3 linked regions of the Homo sapiens genome follow. The protein of the gene in region 3 interacts with the protein of the main gene of each other region in a biochemical or structural test. Each region holds a gene or a part of one and is shown on either strand. Other genes may lie near its edges.

Region 1 (7,023 bases), on a different chromosome or scaffold from region 3:
AGAGTTTCTCTGGCTCAGGAATCTGGACATGGCTTTATGGGTGGCCTGCATAGGGTCTCACCAGGCTACAGTCTGCGAGGGATGGCCAGGCTGTTTCCTTTGGAGCTCAGGGTTGTCTTCCAGGCTCATGTGGTTGTTGGCAGAATTTAGTTCCTTATGGTTGTAGGACTGAGGCCCCCCGCAATTTCCTGCTGGCTGTCTCTCAGATTGATAGCTGACTTCTTCAAGGCCAGCATGAGAATTTCTCCTCTAGAAAGATGCAATCCCTCTTTTAAGGTCTTTTACCTGATTAAGTCAGGCCCACCCCAGATAATTGCCCTTTGATGAACTCAAAATCAATTGATTTGAGATGCTAATTACACCAGCAATATTCCACCCCCTTTGCCACATGACATAACCTAATCACAGGAGTGATATCCTATTTCATTCACCGTCCTGCCGATACTGAAGGGGAGGGCATACTATAGGGTATGTACATCAGTCGGGGTCGGGGGCTTGAGGGCCATCTTAGAACGTTGCCTGCCACTCACACTCCACCTCTTCCTCCCATCCTTCCTCCAGCAGCTCCTGGAAGTGTGTGTTAGTAGTCCCTTTTGCATTGCTATAAAGGAGTACCTAAGACTGAGTTATTTATTTATTTTATGTATTTATTTTGAGATGGAGTTTCACTCTTGTTGCTCAGGCTGGAGTGTAGTGGTGTGATCTTGCTCACTGAAACCTCTGCCCCCAGGCTCAAGTGATCCTCCTGCCTCAGCCTCCTGAGTAGCTGGGATTACAGGCGCACGCCACCATGCCCAGCTAATTTTGTATTTTTAGTAGAGACGAGATTTCACCATGTTGGCCAGGCTGGTCTCGAACTCCTGACCTCAGGTGATCCACCCACCTCGGCCTCCCAAAGTGCTGAGATTACAGGTGTGAGCCACTGCGCCCAACCAGACTGAGTAATTTATAAAGAAAAGAGGTTTATTTGGCTCACAGTTCTACAGGTTGTACAAGCATGGCACCAGCATCTGTTTGGCTTTTAGTTAGGCCTTTGGTGAGGAAGGAAGCTTTTACTCATGGCAGAAGGTGAAGCTGGGAGCAGGCATGTCACAGGGTTAGAGAGGGAACAAGAGACAGAGGAGGAAGTGCCAGCCTCCGTTAAACAACCAGTTTGTGCAAGAACTCACCTGTTACCATGGGGAGGGCACCAAGCGGTGCATGGGGAATCCACCCCCACGACACGAACACCTCCCACCCTGCCCCACCTCCAACACTGGGAATCACATTCCAACATGAGATTTGGAGGGGACAAACATCCAGACTGTATCAAAGTATCTGTCTAAAGCATGGGCCCCCTGCTGTTTCTGGCCTCATGTCCCTTAACATGGCCTGCAGGGTCCTAGGTGACTGGGCCCCGCCTGTGCCAGCAGTCTCATCTCATATCATCCATCCCTGGCTCATGCCCTATGCACTCACTGTTCCCCAGACACAGTGGGTGTGGGTGGGATGCCATGCTGGGCATTCTTGCCTAGTGAGTCGTATCCTTCCAGGGCCTTGGATCCCATTGCCATGCCGTATCGGTGTTCCCAAGCATGCCACACTGTTTCTACAGTAACATTGGGTGATGTTGTTTCAGATGTGCATTTTTTCATGGCTGTTTTGACTGTAAGCCCATCTCTTATTACCCCCATTCATCCTCCTGCCAATCTGACCAGCACATAGCAGAGTGCTTGGCATATAGTGGTGTGCCCCATTGATTGAGTGACCTGCAGCTATACCTGAAAGACCCAGATTCCTTGTTCAGATCAGGGGGTGGGGAGACAGTGCAGGAGTGAATGGGAACCTTGTCTCTGTGCACTGAGGCCTGATGCGTGCCTAGTCTGGATGGCGTTAAGTTTCATCCCAAGTGTTCATTCCTGTCTGTTGGAGCAGCTGCCCCGAGCTCTCGAAGGATCTGAGTGCACATCTAGGCTTCTTGATACTGTACAACCCTATTTTTCTCAAAGTTTGGGACTTCCAGGAAGACCCTCCCTTCCCATAAGATATTCCCTGGCTGCAATCCACATCCCTTGAGATGTCCCTGTCTGTTACCAGAATGTGTGATTAGAGCTGTTCCCCTAGGATTGGGGTGGTCCTGAGTTTCCTGTGCTTTTCCACCTTTAGCTGGAAAAGTGGAAAGAACATTGTCCTGGGGGATCGGAAGATCTCAGTCCCAGCTGTGTCTGTGCCCCTAGCTGGTGGAGTTCCTGCCATGTCTAGACCTCAGTTTCCCCATCTGTAAGATGAGTGACCTCTGGGGTCCCCTCCAGCTCCAGATTACTGTGTCTTCAAGTGTCATTTAAACTCCTGGTGACCTCTGGCCTGTAATTTGAGAAGGCCAATTGGACTTAGCACTCTTGGGCATAGGGGAGAGCCTCCTGGGGTTGGTGAGGACTGAGCCCAGGTCCCCGTTTCACCAGAGCTGCCTGCACTAACCCCCTGGCATGTTCCAGAAAGCATCAAAACTGCGAGGAATCTCAACAAAGCCAGTCTACATCCCCGAGGTGGAACTGAACCACAAGCTGATAAAAGGCATCCACCAGAGCACCATAGACCTCAAAAACGAGCTGAAGCAGTGCATCGGGCGGCTCCAGGAGCCCACCCCCAGTTCAGGTGACCTTAGCAGCCCCCTATGCTGCCCCCTGTGGAACCCTGCAACCCGATGGGTCCCCTAAATGTTTTGGGATGGGAGATTGGGGCGTGATCCCGAGCACTGGGGCCTGAGTTTCAGGGCTCCTGAAACATCCGCCCTCTGTCTGGAGGCTGGTGGGGAGTCTGCTTCATCCTGACATTTTAGGATCTTTCCTAAAGCATTTTTGGGGACTTGATGTTAATGCTTGGACTTTCTGGACAGATAGGCTCTTTTGGCCTGTGATCTTGAGGCCAACTTGGATGGGTTTTGAATAAGCTAGGGCTTGTTATTGTGTTTGGTGGGGGAATGGCCCGTTTGGGGGAGAAATCTAGAATTCCTCTTTGACACCCCCTTTTCATCACCCCATATCCAATCCATTGCCAAATTTCACTTCTTTCAATCTCCTGACTCAGTCTGCTGATCCTAGCACTGCTTGCCTGTTCTCCATTGCCATCACCTGTCGCCCCATGACTGTAGCAGCTTCCTAAACCCTCTGCATCTGCCGCTGCAGCCAGAGAGGGATTTTCATGATGCAGAGCTCATGTCCTGGGACCTATTCTGCTTTGCCCTCTCACTAGGCTTCCTATTACTCCCTGATGCAGACCAAACCCTTGACCCTGGTCTAGATGCCAGGTCAAGCCCTGTTGGTCTCTCTCCAGCCCCAAGGCGCCCCCCACTCTCCTCTGGTGCATCTCTCTGCATTCAGTTCCTCAAATATGCAAAACTTCCTGCTACAGGGCCTTTGTGTTTGCTCTTCCCCACTCTCCAGAAGGCTTGAACTCCACCGTCTTCACTAATTAACTCCTCTCACCCTTCAAAGATCAGCAAAACATTACATTTATAGCCAGCCTCCCCTGCCACTGCTCCCACTCCTCAGACTGGGCCCAGGGTCCTTGTCATCCTCTTGGGACTCTTGCATGGGTAGTATCGCATTCTTCCTTGGGATCCCCGTATATCTCCCTCATTAGGTTGTGATCTCTGTGAGGTCAGGGGCTGCGGCTTATTTATTTATTTATTCAGGATCTTGCTCTGTCGCCCAGGCCGGAATGCAATGGCGTGATTATAGTTCACTGTAACCTCAAACTCCTGGGATTAAGTGATCCCTCTGCCTCAGCCTCCCGACTAGCTAGGACTATAGATACACACCATCATGCCCGGCTAATTAAAAAAAAATTTTTTTTTTTTTGAGACGGAGTCTCGCTCTGTCACCCAGGCTGGAGTGCAATGGCCCAATCTCTGCTCACTGCAACCTCTGCCACCCAGGTTCAAGCATTTCTCCTGCCTCAGCCTCCTGAGTAGCTGGGATTACAGGCATGTGCCACCACACCTGGCTAATTTTTGTATTTTTAATAGAGACATGGTTTCACTACTTTGGTCAGGCTAGTCTTGAACTCTCGACCTCAAGTAATCTGCCTGCCTCAGCCTCCCAAAATGCTGGGATTACAGGCGTGAGCCACCGGGCCCAGCCTAAAAAATTTTTTTTGTAGAGCCAGGGTCTCGCTAAGTTGTCCAGACTGATCTTGAGCTCCTGGCTTCAAGTGATGCTCCTGCCTTGGCCTCCCAAATCATTGGGATTACAGGCTTGAGCCACTGTGCCTGGCCTGTCTGATTTTTCTTCAACGCTATTTCCCTAGTGCCTAGCACAGAGCCTGGCCCATAGTAAATCTCTGTTGTGTAGTCCAAGATTGGGCTTGAATCTCAGCTTGGCCTGCCGAGTGTCCTTGCAGAAGGGCTTCTGAAATCGGTGGCGGTGCAGCCCCATTGTGGAAGTGCTGCGTGGGGGCAAAGCTATAGGTGGCTGGTATGTGGGAGGAGGGGAGAGAAAGAATAGTGGGAAAGGAACAAGTGTTGACCCAGCCTCCGCTACATGACCTTGATCTCATTCAGGAGTCACATCAACCATGAGCAAGGTGAAGTCATCCCCATTGTGTGCTCGAAGAAACCAAAGCTCAGAGAAGTCTCAGAGGCCACAGAGCTGGGTGCTGGTGGAAAAAAGACTTGGCCCTTGCTACATTTTAAAAAGTCAGAGAAAAAAGGGAATACACCAAACTGGTTCTTAGATCACCTTGTTTGTAGCTCTTGTAAGCGATGGGATGGGGAAGGTCGGAGGAAATGGCTGTCTGTGTAAACCCTCTGCCTGCCCACCGACCCATGGCAAAGCTGGCTGCTAGGGTCAGTGAGAGGAGCCGCACACACTGAGCCCTTCTTCTCTGACACAGGTGACCCTGGAGAGCATGACCCAGCGTCCACACACAAATCCACACGCCCTGTGAAGAAGGTCTCCAGTAAGTAGCCCCACCCCTGTCTCCATGGCAACAGCATGGCTGTGGCCTCCCCAGGCTCTGGCCAAGTCACTTCCGGCCCATCCCGAGTCACTGTGGGGCCTGGACCTCAGTGGGAAAGAAGTTGGTGGCAGTCCCCACTGCGGGGGGCTGTAGGGCTGTGGCAGAAGCTCCGCTGTCCATCAGCATTGCACGTTTGGGCTGCCTGGAACAGCAAGATGCCTGAGGCTGGCTTGTTTTGAGAAATATTTACTATACCCAAGTCCTTGGGCAGAGCCTTGGGCAAGGAGACTGATGGCGGTCCAGGAAGGGTGGAGGCTAAACCTCCTTGGCATCTCAGCAGTGTTAAGTCTCTGGGTTGTAATGGGCTTCTGCTATTACCATGTTTCTCAACTGTTTTTTTTTTTTTGGTTTCTCACTGTTACCCTCCTCCTGCTCATCCCCAGAACCATTTGAGAAAATTTTTTTCCTAATTACAACCCATGAAATTTTAATACCACCCATCTACTGCATAACTGTTTATGTTTGTGCTTTTACACATAAAAAGAGTAATCTTTTTTACTCCCCCTCCCCCAAGGATCCATTTTTGCCCTCCTAGGGGTACTATCCCCCTCATTGGGCAGGCACCTGCCATTGACATGGGGGTTGAGGAGAAGAGTGGTCCTGTTCTGCAAATGTGGACAATAGTGATATCGAGGCCACAGGATGATTCTGAGTGATGAGGGGACACTGATTGTGAGAGCTCTTTATGAGCCATATACCACTGAGATGTCCATATACCACTGAGATGTCCATATACCACTGAGATGTCCATATACCGCTGACATGTCCATATACCGCTGAGATGTTCATATACTGCTGACATGTCCATATACCGCTGAGATGTCCATATACTGCTGACATGTCCATATACCGCTGACATGTTCATATATCGCTGAGATGTCCATATACCGCTGACATGCCCATATACCGCTGACATGTTCATATACCACTGACATGTCCATATACCACTGAAATGTTAGCTGTCATTGCTTCCCTGAAAAGTTGGTGTGAACCCAGGAGGGCTGGCTGCACACTGCTGGTGTTGGGGGGATGAGAGAGCCAGGGCTTGCTCTTTGTTGTTGTTGCTTGTGCTTAGTGTTCAGGTCACCTGTAGCAGGCAGAGTGTGGTATCGGTCCCCGAATGGAACAGAGTCAGGGCTGGGATGCCTGGTGCAGATGGAGGAGGGAGCCCTTAGCTGGGCCGGAAAACCTCGAAGGGTACTTTGTGTGAAAAGAGGAGTGAAAGAGGAAGTGGAAAGGTACTGTTGACCTGTGTCCTTCCCCAGTCACCTTCCTCTGAAAGCTCCTCCCTTAGTATGAATGAGGTAGGGATGCCGGCCAGCAGGCAGGTGTGTTCCCCAGTGAGGTGAGGTCCTCATGTCACAGCAGAATGACACCCTGGAGAATAAAGTTCGGGAATGAATCAAGGCTCCTCTAGGCTGAAATGGGGAAATAGGGGAGGGGGTATGGAGTAGTCCCAGTGCAGAGAGATGTCTAAGGGTAGGTGATGAGGGAGGTGCCTGTGCCCTAGATTGATGTCACAGCCTGGGCCTCCCAAGATGCTGGTCCACAGGGAGTGGGTGGGAAAGTGGCAGAAGGGGAGGAAATGGGAGAGTGAGCGACTGTGAGTGATGTGACTTCGAAGTAGGAGAAGCGGTAGCAAGGGGGCTTTGTGGTGTGATGGGGGTCTGGGGGAGGGAGAGGGTAATAGGAGAGAGCAGGGCTTATCTGTAATGTCAGGTGTCCTGCAGGTGGGCAGGGATATGATTTCAAAAACGCCCCTTTTTGTTCCAGTGTTGTGGAAGGTGGCAAAGAAGGAAGCTGGGATCTTCTAGCCCACTTGAGTGGACTTTGGACTCACCTGGAGGGCTTGTACATCACAGATTGCTGGGTCTCACCCCCAGCCTTTATGATTCAGTGGCTCTGGCTTGGGGCCCAAGAATTTGCATTTACTATTTTTTAAGAGACAGAGTCTCGCTCTTTTGCCTAGGCTGGAGTGCAGTGGTGCGAACAGAACTCATTGCAGCCTCGAACTCCTGGGCTCAA
Region 2 (7,023 bases), on a different chromosome or scaffold from region 3:
TTATTTTTAGTGATAGAGATGGGGCCTCATTATATTGCCCAAGTTGGTTGCAAACTCCTGGGCTCAAGCAATACCTGCCTTGGCCTCCCAAAGTGCTGAGATTATAGGCATGAGCCACTGCACCAGCCCTGAAAATATTTTAACTTATAACTACAAAGCAGCCTTACTTAATTGTTGTAAGTAATACTTACAACAAATCCTGGTTCACTTATTAGCTTGTGGAAACAATAATTTAATAATAATATTTACATCTAAAGTATAGTCTCAATTTTCCTACTACTACGTATTAACCACTATGAGTCAAACATGGTGTTAGATGCTTGAAGCACATCATTGATCCATATTAGTGAGGAAGACATTATTATCATTTTATAGAGAAGAAAATTGAAACCCAGAGAATTTATTTTACATATTCAAAGTCATATAATTATTAAAAGGTAGAAGAAGATTTGAACCCAGGTGCATCTAATTTCCTGGACTTTGCTCCCTTCATAATAGTAAACTCCTGATTTCCACTTTAAACGTTTTTTTTTTTTTTTGGAGACGGAGTCTCGCTCAGTCTCCCAGGCCGGAGTGCAGTGGCGCCATCTCGGCTTACTGCAAGCTCCGCCTCCCGGGGTCACGCCATTCTCCTGCCTCAGCCTCCCGAGTAGCTGGGATGACAGGCGCCCGCCACCACGCCCGGCTAATTTTTTGTATTTTTAGTAGAGACGGGGTTTCACTGTGTTAGCCAGGATGGTCTCGATCTCCTGACCTCGTGATCTGCCCATCTCGGCCTCCCAAAGTGCTGGGATTACAGGTGTGAGCCACCAGCCTGGCCCTTCTTTTTTTTTTTTTTTTGAGACAGATTCTCACTTTGTCACCCAGGCTGGAGTGCATGCAGCTGCATGATCTCAGTTCACTGCAACCTCTGCCTCCCAGGTTCAAGCAATTTTCATGCCTCAGTCTCCTGATTAGCTGGAATTACAGGTGCACACCACCATGCCAGCTATTTTTTTGTATTTTTGGTAGAGACGGGGTTTCACCATGCTGGCCAGGCTGGTCTCGAACTCCTGACTTCATGATCCGCCCATCTTGGCTTCCCAAAGTGCTGGGATTACAGGCGTGAGCCACCACGCCCATTCTCGCCTTTAAACTTTTAAAACATCAAAAAAGGCTGGGTGTGGTGGCTCACGCCTGTAATCCCAGCACTTTGGGAAGCCAAGACGGGCGGATCATGAGGTCAGGAGTTCGAGACCAGCCTGGCCAGCATGGTGAAACCCCATCTCTACTAAAAATACAAAAATTAGCTGGGCGTGGTGGCACGCGCCTGTAGTCCCAGCTACGCAGGAGGCTGAGGCAGAAGAATCACTTGAACCTGGGAGGCAGAGGTTGCAGTAAGCTGAGATTGTGCCACTGCACTCCAGCCTGCCAACAGAGCGAGACTCTATCTCAAAAATAAATAAATAAATAAAACATCAAAATAAGATTAGGACATCTAAGGGGTCACACCATCCTTTTTGACATGAAGAGAATAAGCAAACAGGCAGAAACTTGGAAACCACCCAGCAGTCTAGCAATTGACTCCTTATGGAATAAATGGCTTCATCATACTAAAGAATTATGCAGATAAATGCATTATTTAAGATACAAAACTAAATCTATAAACCCAATAGAAATTATTTTCCTCTAGGCCGGGGGCAGTGGCTTGCGCCTATAATCCCAGCACTTTGGGAGGCCGAGGTGGGTAGATCATCTAAGGTCAGGAGTTCGAGACCAGCCTAGCCAACATGGTGAAACCCGGTCTCTACTAAAAATACAAAAATTAGCTGGGCATGGTGGCAGGTGCCTGTAATCCCAGCTACTAGGGAGGCTGAGCCAGGAGAATCACTTGAACCCAGGATGCAGAGGTTGCAGTGAGCCAAGATCGCGCCATTGCACTCCAGCCTGGGCAACAAGAGCGAAACTCTGTCTCAAAAAAAAGAAATTATTTTCTTCTAAATATATGCTGCTTCCCACTGCACACAGCTTCACCATTTTATGGATCTCTCTCTCCACCTACATGCCCAATATAACAGTAAGTATTCAAGAGATTTGCCTACTAGGGCAACATTGTGGAGGAAGCCAAGATGTGGGCACATCTTTAAAATAAGAATTTTAACTACCTTCATTCTTTATGTTCTGTAAGTTTTTACTATTTTCAAATGCAATAATCAACAAAGGGGGCATTTTAGTAAACTATAATAACTTTCAAAAAAAAAATGCAATGAACTTATTCTTAATGCCAAACCCATACTATATAACTCAACATATTTGAAGGTTAGAATTTACAAAGAATCTGTTGTATTCCAAGATATGAGATGACTGTGTCGACTCCCCATTTGCTGAATATCAATCTGATCCCTTAGGCCACTAATGATCATGCCTCACTAAAGATCAATGTAGTCAAAGTGAATCAACAGACCATGGACCTGACATGTTTTCATATATTCACCCCTAGCCTGGAGAAAGTCCTCAAAACAAAACATTCAAGTTAGAATAACTGAGGTTATTTAAAGACATGCCTCTTTTTAGGATCAATACAAAGAACAATACCTCTGTAAGTTCAAGGAGATCGTCCGTTCTTCTGTCCCTCTCTTTGCCTGAGCAATTCTTTTCCTTTGTCTCAATTATTGACACTTTCCTCCTGAGTAAGCCATTGCTTCCACTGCCCAGGCGGAGTCGGGCCGACACTTCTTCTGATAGGTCAGGCTCCAGTTGGTATCCCCTCCTCTGATCAAAAAATTATCTAAATTCTACTGACATGTTTGATACTTGCAAATATAAACACAGATTACACATGAAATATAAAACTGCCACTAATGTGAAAGAAAAGAGAATTAGCAAATCCCCCAAGTGAGTAGATTTACCCTATCTGTCTGTCCCTGCAAGGGGGAGCAAAAAAAGCTCCAGACCTAGGCCTCACAGGACCCTCAGTTATGAACCATCAAACAGAACACTCACCACCTTCCCTGGAAGTAGCAAGAAAAGTATTTTCAGTTCTCCTATCACAATTAAAATTAGTATGTTTAAAAGATATTATGAAAGTTTTAAACAGCAAAAAATATGACCCACAATCCCATCACTCAGAATAAATCCCTACTATCTTTATAGTAACTCAACTTGGTTCTAGTTTATCCTTGAAAAAAGTCATTTGATATTACAGAAAATGCACAAAACATTAATGTACCACTTAATTTGAATGAACACCTATATAACCACAATTGTAGTAAACAAATAGAATTCTGCCAGCAACCCAGAACATATCATCTCTTTCCAGAGATGTATGATTTTTAAGAAATTCTCCCTAAGAAGCCATAAAATGTAGGTAACATGTTGGTATGGAGGCAGATTGGTCTCTCATAAACAAAGGTGGCTACTGTACAGAGGCAAAACTCCAACAACTCAGAAGGAAGAAAAAAGTTGTGTATTTTCAATGCTTCCTGCCTTTTTTTTTTTTTTTTTTTTTGAGACAGAGTCTCATTCTGTCACCTAGGCTGGAGTGCTATGGTGTGATCACAGCTCACTGCAGCCTTGACCTCCTGGGCTCAAGCAATCCTCCCACCTTAGCTTCCCAAGTAGCTGGGACTACAGACATGCCACCATGCCTGGCTAACTTTTAAATTTTTTTGTGGAGACAGTCTCACTATGTTGCCCAGGCTGGTCTCAAACTCCTGGGCTCAAGTGATCCTTCTGCCTTGGCCTCCTAAAGTTCTGGGATTACAGGCATGAGCCACTGTGACTGGCTGGCTTGCTGCTTTTTTAAAGAAAAACAACAGAATTAACAATCAAAGTTATATATATATACTTTTTCTTGCTTTTCATGGGCACCAAAACATAAGTTACATAAGTAAACAGGTATCAAATGTAACTAGGATTTTTACTTACACTTTCATTTTCAAATCTGATTCCGACCATCGTCTCTGTATCAGTAATTTTCCCCTTTGAACACCTAAGGAAAAAAATTGAGAGATGATAGACTTCTGCTAGATGATTCAAACCTAGTACATCCTAGTTTTAGAAATAAGATTTCGTAATTTGTACATAAAAATTGTGTTGAGTTTACATAATACTCTAAACCAGGAGTCAACGAACTTTTCTGAAAAGGAACAGACAGTATTTTAGGCTTTGCAGGTTTTATGGTCTTGGGCACATCGTGGCAACTCTGCCACTGTAATTTAAAAGCAGCCAGACAGTATGTAAATGAATTCGCATGTTCCAATAGAAATTTACTATACAAAAATAGGCAAGTAGACCAGATTTGGCCCATGGGCCATAGTTTACAAACTCTGCTATAAACCATCATCCCAAAATCCTAAAGCATGCAGAGCTGCCTTTACTGTTCCTATCCTAAAGACACTGACACTAGACATCCCCACTCCAACCAAACTCCCATCTAAGAAGCATGTGTTTCTCCCAACCCCTGACGCCTGGGAGATAAGGGGCACCCCCCTCAACCCACCAGGCTAGGGTGGGCATCTGACACAACAGCTAGCTACCTATCTACCCTATATGCTGACCAACTACCAGAACTCAAGAGAGTTCACAATTCCTCAGAACTGCTTACTCATAAATACAGCTTATAAAGTAAGAAAATATATATTAAAAGAAAGTGTAGAATGAACTGAATGTACGTACCTCTTTTCACTTCTCAATGAACATAGAGGTCCCCTTGTTTCAACAAGTCTATCTGTGAGGATGGTAAAGAAAAGATTAAATGTTTCCTTCATCGATGAATAATATAGTTAGAATTTCAGCTTACAGAGTTTCCACAACATCAAGACATTCCTCTACATTGAAATGCTACAGTGAATTCCAAAGACACTAGCCTCCCTATATACTAAGTTGCCTAAAAAAATGCATACATATCTTTGCTGTTTAAATATAATCTTTACTATAAACTGAGTGATATCTGCTTATCTGGTAAGCTGTCATTTAGTGGACAGTAAGTGGAGAAGTATAAGGAAATTGTTATATAAGGAATATAATAAAATTTCAGCTCACAAAATAGTTGCTACTATCTAGCAGCTTAGGAATAATAATCCAGAGCCATGTTATGAATCTACTTCACCCTGAAACAGCTTTTCTACTAAATTCCTAGATAAGCCCCAGTCAATGCTGTGAGGTTTTTTTTTTTTTTTTGAGACAGAGTCTCACTGTCACCCAGGCTGGAGTGCAGTGGCGTGATCTTGGCTCACTGCAACCTCCACCTCCCAGGTTCAGGCAATTCTACTTCCTCAGCCTCCTGAGTAGCTGGGATTACAGGCAAGTGCCACCATGCCTGGCTAATTTTTGTATTTTTAGTAGAGATGGGGTTTTACCATGTTCGCCAGGCTGGTCTTGAACTCCTGACCTCAGGTGATCCATCTGCCTTGGCCTCCCAAAGTGCTGGGATTGCAGGCGTAAGCCACCGCGCCCGGCCCAATGCTGTGAGATTTGACAGTATTTTGGTACACCATCTACACTTGAATGTCAATTTTCTACCTCATATGAACACTGTAGCATGAACTAAGGTCAATATATTAAGACAAGGCTAAATCTGGGAACTCACATTGTTTTGGAACAAACTGAGTTGTTTTGACTCCGTGATTTTGCTCTTCCCCCCAGCCTTTGGTCTTTAATGTGTCCATCTGACTTCTTTGAGAACTTAGAAACACAAAAAGTGAGGGAGATCAGATACAAAAGCAAAGTCTACCATTAATATGCATTATCTCTGTCCAGCAAGCTTCTCCAAATAGGGGTGATTGATTACACTATTATATCAAATTACAACAGAAAGGAAGCAACTATGTGGGACTAGGATAAAAGGAGTCTAATCATGATTCTAATAATATTTCAGCCAGGTCACCTAACCTCCAGTTTCTCTGTTTGTAAAATCAGAGGTTCTGAATCCCCAGTGATGCACTAACTGAAAAATCTCAGTGTGATAAAACTCAGATTAAAAGATAAAAAACTTTTTAAGCTATGTATTTAAATGGATCCTGAAACAATACATTAAAAGCAAGAACTTTTTGTTTTTTGAGACGGAGTCTCGCACTGTCGCCCAGGCTGGAGTGCAGTGGTGTGATCATGGCCTCACTGAAATCTCTACCTCTCAGGTTCAAGTGGTTCTCCTGCCTCAGCCTCCCAAGTAGCTGGGATTACTGGCACACGCCACTACACCTGGTTAATTTTTGTATTTTTAGTAGACATGGGGTTTCGCCATGTTGGTCAGGCTGGTCTCGAAGTCCTGACCTCCAGTGACCCACCTGCCTCGGCCTCCCAAAGCGCTGGGATTACAGGTGTGAGCCACCACACCCAGCCAGAAGCAGGAACTTTAATTATTTATTTATTTATTTTGAGACGGAGTCTCGATCTGTAGCTCAGGCTGGAGTGCAGTGGCACAATCTCTGCTCACTGCAAGCTCCGCCTCCCGGGTTCACGCCATTCTCCTGCCTCAGCCTCCCGAGTAGGTGGGACTACAGGTGCCAGCCACCATGCCCAGCTAATTTTTTGTATTTTTTAGTAGAGATGGGGTTTCACCGTGTTAGCCAGGATGATCTTGATCTCCTGACCTCGTGATCCGTCCACCTCGGCCTCCCAAAGTGCTGGGATTACAGGTGTGAGCCACTGTGCCCAGCCAAAGCAGCAACTTTAAAAAGCAAAAATAGTTTGAGGGTTTCGCCAACATGACAAAGTTAAGAGTTCGTTAAACATACTGCTGTTTCCAACATATGGCTGGTCAAAATGGAGAAAATACTGACATTCTGACTAAACCAAAAGAATTTTTTTTTAAAGTTCACAACTGATTATTCGCAAACAATCTGTTATTTCTGCATTCAAAAGCTAGATAGTAGGCCGGGTGCGGTGGCTCACGCCTGTAATCCCAGCACTCTGGGAGGCTGAGGCTGGTGGACTACCTGAGATCAGGTGTTCGAGACCGGCCTGGCCAACATGGTGAAGCCCCATCTCTACCAAAAATACAAAAAATTAGCTGGGCGTGGCGGTGGACGCCTGTAATCCCAG
Region 3 (7,902 bases):
TAATCTTTTTCAAGTCTGTACATGTATTACTTTGATAAAAATAAAAACTTAATTAAAAGGTTATGGGGTCCAGTGTAGAAAATTTGGAAAGTACAGAAAAGTATAAAGAAGAAAATATAACCACTCACAATTCCTCCACTCAGAGAAAGCCACTGGGTATATTTTAGAGGAACAAGATTAAATGAATTTGTGAGATTAAATAGAGCTTGAAGATTTAAAACATCACAATTTAGATATAAATGAACAAATAACAGTATAATACCGCATATGTGTAGATATAATTACATACAATATAAGCATATATACTATGATTCCATGCATTTATATGTGTATTAGAAAGTAGTCTCAGCTGGACACAGTGGCTCATGCCTGTAATCCCAGCACTTTCAGAGGCCAAGGTGGGAGGATTACTTGAATCCAGGAGCCTAGCATGGGCATCATAGGGAGACCCCATCTCTTCAAAAAATTTAAAAATTAGCCAGGTGCGGCAGTGCATGTCTGTAGACCAGCTACTTGGAAAGCTGAGGCAGGAGGATCACTTGAGCCTGGGAGGTTGAGCCTGCAGTGAGCCATGACTGTGTCACTGCACTCCAGCCTGGGCAACCCAGTGAGACTCTTTTAAAATACACACACACGGCCGGGCACGGTGGCTCACGCCTGTAATCCCAGCACTTTGGGAGGCTGAGGCGGGTGGATCATTTGAGGTCAGGAGTTTGAAACCAGCCTGGCCAATATGGCGAAATCCCCTCTCTACTAAAACTGCAAAAATTAGCCAAGCATAGTGGTGCACGCCTGTAATCCCAGCTACTCGGGAGGCTGAGGTAGGAGAATCTCTTGAAGCCGGGAGGTGGAGGTTGCAGTGACCCAAGATCACATCAGTGCACTCCAGCCTGGGTGACAGAGCGAGATTCCGTCTCAAAAACAAAACAAAACAAAACAAAACACACACACTCATGCACACTAGTCTCAAGGCCAGGTGCAGTGGCTCACACCTGTAATCCCAGCACTTTGGGAAGCTGAGGCAGGCAGATTGCTTGAGCTCAGGAGGTCAAGGCTGCAGTGAGCTGTTATCGCACCACTGCACTATAGCCTAGGTGACAGAGCGAGACCCTGTCTCAGAAAGAAAAAAAAAAAGATAGTCTGGAGGAATACCCACCAAAATATTACTTGGTGGTTATGTTACCAGGGTGGGACCAGGCTAAGGCAAGCAAGGTTCCTAGGACACTCAATGTAAGGCTGCCTTCACTCTCAGGGTTCTGCAAATGCAGGAGTAGAACCTGAAAGTGAGTGTCTTCTTAAATGTTATGCCCTCACATGCTTCACCCTAGTCTTGGCCTTGGTTGGGACCTACGGCTGCTGGATTATGGGCACTTTCTCCTTCTTACTTTTTACTTGGATATATGTTCAAGTTCCTTGCTACTCTAAGTGTAGTACATGGACCAGCAGTGATAGCATCATCTGGGGGCTTGTTTGAAATGCAGTATCTCAGCTCTGCCCCAGACTTTAGCCAGATCTGCTCTTTAACCAAATCCCAGGAGATTTATGTGCATGTTACAGTTTGAGAAGCACTGGGCTAGCAGGCACCCAAGCATAGTTCCTGTCTTCTTATGAAAGGAATATTCAGAGGCAATTGATGCCACTGCCCCAATAGGTGGGGCACACACTGCTAAGGGGTAAGATGCCTGTTTTTAAAAAGAGTTGTGGTTCTTTCCAAGTGGCTCAGTTTTGGCTGGTGAAGCAATCATAGGTCAGCTTGATAAAGGAGAGGCAGGTGATTCCCTTGGAACAAAGAACGGGTGAGTTGAGCAAGTGAGCAAGACACTCACCTTGGGCACAAAAAACTCAGTAATCAAGATAAAGACCATTTTAATGCAAGGTTTTTCAAAAATCAAAATTAATGCAAAAAATCCACGATGAATAAAACATCGAAATTTAAAATAAAGCTCGACTCACTGTGTAAGGTGGTTCATGCCTGTAATCCCAGCACATTGGGAGGCTGAGGTAGGAGGATCACCTGAGAACAGGAGTTTGAGACCAGCCTGGGCAACATAGTGAGGCCTGACTCTACAAAAAACTAGCCGATCAAGGTCGTACGCACCTTTGTTCCCAGCTACTCACAAGGCTGAGGTAGGAGGATTGCTTGAGCCCAGGAGTTCGAGGCTGCAGTGAGCTATGATTGTGCCGCTGCTCTCCAGCCTGGGTGACCCCAGCCTGGGTGACCCCGTCTCAAAAAACAAACAAACAAACAAACAAACACGGGGATGTGACAACATCAAAATTATGCAGGTCAGATCTTTCTAATTTCCAACTCACAGTCTGGGATGGGTATAAGTGATTTCAGTTTTGGTGATAGGAAAGGGATTCAGATGCTCAAGTGGCCAAAAAGAATGACAAACGTCCATTATAGTTATTGGAATCTTGGTAAAATGTCACCTTTTGGGTTCCTGCAGAAAGAGCAGCATAATTTGGCTGGGCTGTTTTGAGGAAAACTTTAGTGCTTATTTGAGTTGTGGTACAGATAAATTAATATAGGAGGAAAGGGCCGGGTGCGGTGGCTCACGCCTGTAATCCCAGCACTTTGGGAGGCGGAGGTGGGCAGATCACGAGGTCAAGAGATAGACAGCATCCTGGCCAACATGGTGAAACCCCATCTCTAGTAAAAATACAAAAAAAAAAGGCCGGGCGCGGTGGCTCACGCCGGTAATCCCAGCACTTTGGGAGGCCGAGGCGGGCAGATCACAAAGTCAGGAGATCGAGACCATCCTGGCTAACATGGTGAAACCCCGTCTCTACTAAAAATACAAAAAATTAGCCGGGCTTGGTGGCGGGCGCCTGTAGTCCCAGCTACTCGGGAGGCTGAGGCAGGAGAATGGTGTGAACCCGGGAGGCGGAGCGTGCAGTGAGCAGAGATCGCGCCACTGCACTTCAGCCTGGGCAACAGAGCAAGACTCCGTCTCAAAAAAAAAAAAGAAGAAGGAGAAGGAGAAGGAGAAGGAGAAGAAGAAGAAGAAGAAGAAGAAGAAGAAGAAGAAGAAGAAGAAGAAGAGGAAGAAGAAGAAGAAGAAAAGATTAGCTGGGCATGGTGGCACGTGCCTGTAGTCCTGTAGTCCCAGCTACTAAGGAGGCTGAGGCAGGAGAATCACTTGAGCCTGGGAGGTGGAGGTTGCAGTGAGCCGAGATCGTGCCACTACACTCCAGCCTAGTGATAGAGCGACACTCCGTCTCAAAACAAAACAAAAACAACCCCCCTCCCCCCACCAAAAAAAACATATATATAAGAGAGAAGAGAGAGTGAAATTCCTCTTCTGAAACTGGGAAAGTTCCAGGAGGAAGATAAGGTTTGAGCTGGGCTTTGGAAGGAGGAAAGAGAAGAGGAGAAAGAACATTGGATTTGCAGACAGAAAATGGGGTTCCCCTCTTGGCTACTTGGCTTACTAGCCGTGGGAATTCAGACAAGTCACTTAGCTTCTCTAAGTATCAATTACTTCATCTGCAAAACCTCGTGTGTCACTGCCAAAGTGAGGACCAAGTGAGATTAAATAAGTGAAAGTTGTTTGTAAACTGTAAAGCATTATGCAGACATCTTGGACTATTATTAAAAGCTTAAGAATGGGTAGGACTTTGACAACAGGCATTTGGGGAGAAGGGCCTCTGGGCAGAGAGAATGAAAGGCGAAGTGATTGATTGATATGTATGTAGTGACTGATTGAGACAGGGTCTCCCTCCGTTGCCCAGGCTGGGGTGCAGTGTCATGATCATGGCTCATAGCAGCCCTGAACTCCTGGACTCAATCAATCCTCCTGCTTCAGCCTCCACAGTAGGTGGGACCACAGGCACTTGCCACCATGCTGGCCAATTACAAAAATTTTTTTAGAGGTGGATTCTCCTTATGTTGCCCAGACTGGTCTCAAACTCCTAGGCTCAAGCTATCCTCCCACCTGGACCTCCCAAAGTGCTGGAATTACAGGCAGGAGCCACCGCGCCTGGCGAGAAGTGATTTTTGTTAAGAGGCTAGACAAAAGGAAACTGGGCTTTGAAGATGAAATGAATGAATAACTCGCAGCACATGCTTCCTTCTCTCCCTAGATGGCCCCTTTGCAGGCAGTCAGGGACCATGTCTCGTTCATCTTAGTTTCCAGGAGCTTGACACTTTGTAGTTGAGGGCTTTGTGCTCCATTCTCAAGAAACGACAAGTGCCCAAAGGCTATTAAACTTGGGACCTCTTTACCCCCAAAAGTAGTACAGAATAAGAGTTGGGTGGCCTTGAAAAGCACCTTCTTCTGTCCACACTGGGTCGCCCGCTGGGTAACCTCCCAAACCTATGAGAGCTCACCTTATCCCAGGTAAGGTCCTTACTTTAAGGAAGAGGAGGGGGGCCAAGGGCTCCAGCAGACCTGTTCTACACGGGGTAGGGGGGTGGGTGGGAACTATACAGGTGACAACATTTCATAGAACTACACACACACTCACACACACGCACATGACTGCATACCCAACAGGTTAAATCCGAGTGTGGTCTGTAATGAAGTTAATTGTATTGGTTTAGTTAATTGTATTGGTTTAGTTAATTGTATTGTGCGAATGTCAATTTCCTGGCTTTGAGAATGTTGTATCTTAAGAAAAATGTTGAGGTAAGCTGGGTGGGTGATGGTATAGGGAACCTGTATGTATTAATTTTGCAACTTCTTGTGAGTCCATAATTATTTCGAAGTAAAAAGTAAAACAAAAGAAAACAATGGAACTTCCCCCTCAGCCCAGCCTACTTCGAGACCGCCTCACACTCACACATCTGGCCTCACCCAGGTCCAGCCAGCCCTAGGCAGGGGGTGAAGGGAGGGGCAGGGCGGGGCCACGCAAGCGCAGTTCCGCAATCCCGGCCGCTCCGGGAAGTCGCGCATGCGTAGTCTCGGCCCCGGGCTGCCGCGCCAGCCCGTCTCCGCGGCGGGGGACCGGGCTGCCTTGGCCCCTCAGCGCTCGCGTCTTTTCCGGCAGTTGGAACGCTTCCTGTTGTCCTCACCCGTAACCGCCTGTTGCCCCCTGTCTCAGAGTCCCTCACGCGTCCCCTCCCGTCTTTGGCTCGTTGGCTGCCGCCGCCGGGGCTTCGCCAGCCTTCAAGTCGAGACTACTGGCCGAAGGGGCGTCTGCGGCTCTCCGCCGTCCCCAGCCCTGCCTCTCCCTGGGCTCTGGTGAGTTGCTTGCTGCCGCCGTCTTCACTCCATCCCGGGGTTTTTCCTTTATCTCCTCCTTCCCCAACCTCCGACTCCTTCTTGGGCTTTCTCCTGCTCGCCGGCGCCCTCTTTCAAGCCCTAACCTCTCAGCCTCTTGGCCTCTCTCCGCCCCTCTCCTTAACCCCCTTCTTCCCCCGTCTCCAGATGCCCCTTGTTGGCCCTCTCCACATTTTTCCAGTCCCAGCCTTTCCACCCCATCCTTTATCTTTCTCCTTTTGCAGTTGGAGCGGGAGCCAGGCTTTCCTTTCCATGTTGCCACCTTTGTCTGCTCCCTGCCACCAGTCAGTCCCTCAGGGATCTCGGTCATCACCGGTTTTTATCTCCTTTTCCTTCTTCTGGGGTCTGTGAACTGTGGTCTGAGGCAGAGATGTCGAAAGCCCCCCTTGGGGTGTGGTATCTTTGAGTCGGCTCCTTTCTCCGTTAGTCTTAGGATACTGGGCTTCAGATAAGCTTCAAATCACAGGAAAAGGCAGGGAAAATTCTTAAGAAGAGAGTGGAAAAGCAACAGCCAGAGGAAAAAGTCGGTAAGGGCTTAGAGGAAAGTCTGTGTCAGAAAGCGGGCAGAACGGCCGGCAGAGAGACCAGATCTCTCAGTTCATTCTGAAACGACTAAAAGACTCGGAGAGAAACTTGTTCTGTTTGAAATGCACCGAGGAGGGTTGGAGTGAAGTAGACCCTGAGTGTCTCCACCCTTTGAGCTCACCCTGCCTCTGAATTAGCCAGGCAATATATTTGGTTTCCCTAAACATAAAACAACCACCACCTCGATAACAGGCTCTCCTCCCCACCCTAAACGTTAGATACCAGCTTCCTCCTAAGAGGAGAGAACGCTATAGCAAACCATTTCATGTCCCAGCCCTATCCCCCATCACACATAAACTCCTAGGAATGGACATCAAAAATGAGTATATTTCCTAGTTAATCTTTCTTAAGGTGCTAAGTGCATAGCACTGTGCATGAAATGGGGGAAGAATATTAAAACAAGTATAAGACATGGTGCTTGCTTTCTAGTGTAGGTAGAGATTACAGTTTAGTAGGATTTACAGTTCAGTGGGAGAGATTAGACATGCGACTTAAGCAATAATCTTAGCTCCAATGTTGAATCGTCCAAATGAAAGATAATGGATTGTCAGTCGCAAAGAAATAAAGTCCATATTGTTGAGAGAGGGTTGTTTATAGTGATCACAGAGTACCATTGTAAAGTCAGTCAGTTAGCCAGGCATAACCATATAGATTGAATCACATAATGGTTTTCATTTGACTTCCTTTTGAGTTTGCAGGCCTTACACCTGACTTTTATGAGGATCAGTTCCTTTTGTTAATTTTTTAAAACTTTGAAGAATTCCTCAGCCACCTATTATTTCCTAATTCTTCAGAGTTGAAGAATGAAACAAATGGGGCAAAGGCCTCCAATGGCTTCTAGGTCAGGGCAGGAAGGCTTGAATTGTGGAAAGCCTGATGGATAGTCCTGTCTTAAGAAAAGTTGGTTGACCCAGTAAATCTATGAATTGCTATAGGGCAATATTAATTACATCTTTTGATTAAAGGATATTAGAATTAGGCTAAATTTTTTATATTACAATAGAGGAAGTGGAGGAGGGTTTAAAGAAAGGTCAAAGGGAAGGAGAGTGCAGTCTTTATCATTATATTAGAAACTCTAAAAGTTGAAAAACACTCTGCTTAAGAATTTGTTGGTCTAATATTTGAGCATCTTTGAGTTCATTTAATGTCCTTTTGATCTTTTTAAAAGTTTAGGTAGTAATGCAAGCCAGCTACTTAAATTAGTCAAAGCATTTTTGATATATCCATCAGTGTAAATGTAGTCTTTATTCTTTTTTTTTTTTTTTTTTTTTTTTTTCCAGACGGAGTCTCACTCACCCAGGCTAGAGTGCAGTGGTGTGATCTTGGCTCACTGCAACCTGTGCCTCCAGGGTTCAAGCGATTCTCCTGCCTCAGCCTCCCAAGTAGCTGGGATTACAGGTGCCCACCACCACACCCGGCTAATTTTTTTTGTATTTTTAGTAGAGACAGGCTTTCACCATGTTGGCCAAGCTAGTCTCCAACTCCTGACTTCAGGTGATCCACCTGCCTCAGCCTCCCAAAGTTCTGGGATTACAGGCATGAGCCACCGTGTCCGGCCATCTTTATTCTTTAGCTTTGTTGACAACTAAAAATCATTAACTTACTCAACTGCCTGTTATATGGAAGGCACTGTTTGCCTTAGGGTTAAATACTAGCAGATTGTTGTGTTGTGTTTGTTGTTGTTGTTGTTGTTTTTAAGACAGAGTCTTGCTCTGTCCCAGGCTGGCGTGCAGTGGCACAAGCCAAACTCACTGAAACCTCTGCCTCTCCAGCTCAAGCAATCCTCCCACCTCAGCCTCCTGAGTAGCTGGGACTACAGGTGTGTGCTACCACACCTGGCCAATTTTTTGTATTTTTTTGTAGCAACGGGGGTTTTGCCATGTTGCACAGGCTGGTTTCAAGCAATCTCCTACCTCTCCCTCCCAAAGTGCTGAGATTACAGGGGTGCACCAGTGCCCTGGCAAATTGTTACATTTTTATGTTGAAGTAATTTCAGTTGTTAAAATGTAACTACATATATGCAATTTCTTCAGGAATTTTCAGACAAGGAAGTACAAAACTCTCACTTGCTTTTGACATGTTTTTACATCTG

Evidence for each region. The genes of interacting proteins can lie anywhere in the genome.
Region 1: the proteins of STK38 (region 3) and TRIM25 form a complex in vitro, tested with the Homo sapiens proteins (one study listed by BioGRID).
Region 2: of the proteins of STK38 (region 3) and SENP2, one has a biochemical effect on the other in vitro, tested with the Homo sapiens proteins (one study listed by BioGRID).

The regions. Positions count from the first base shown.
Region 1 is NC_000017.11:56,897,030-56,904,052, reverse strand, and holds part of TRIM25 (E3 ubiquitin/ISG15 ligase TRIM25), read left to right. Parts: intron 1-2,474; coding exon 2,475-2,634; intron 2,635-4,872; coding exon 4,873-4,938; intron 4,939-7,023.
Region 2 is NC_000003.12:185,610,292-185,617,314, reverse strand, and holds part of SENP2 (sentrin-specific protease 2), read right to left. Parts: intron 5,665-7,023; coding exon 5,570-5,664; intron 4,709-5,569; coding exon 4,657-4,708; intron 3,971-4,656; coding exon 3,907-3,970; intron 2,752-3,906; coding exon 2,575-2,751; intron 1-2,574. UniProt on the Homo sapiens protein: Protease that catalyzes two essential functions in the SUMO pathway.
Region 3 is NC_000006.12:36,544,474-36,552,375, reverse strand, and holds the start of STK38 (serine/threonine-protein kinase 38), read left to right. Parts: upstream 1-4,896; 5' UTR 4,897-5,186; intron 5,187-7,090; exon of another isoform or gene 7,091-7,902. UniProt on the Homo sapiens protein: Serine/threonine-protein kinase that acts as a negative regulator of MAP3K1/2 signaling. Converts MAP3K2 from its phosphorylated form to its non-phosphorylated form and inhibits autophosphorylation of MAP3K2.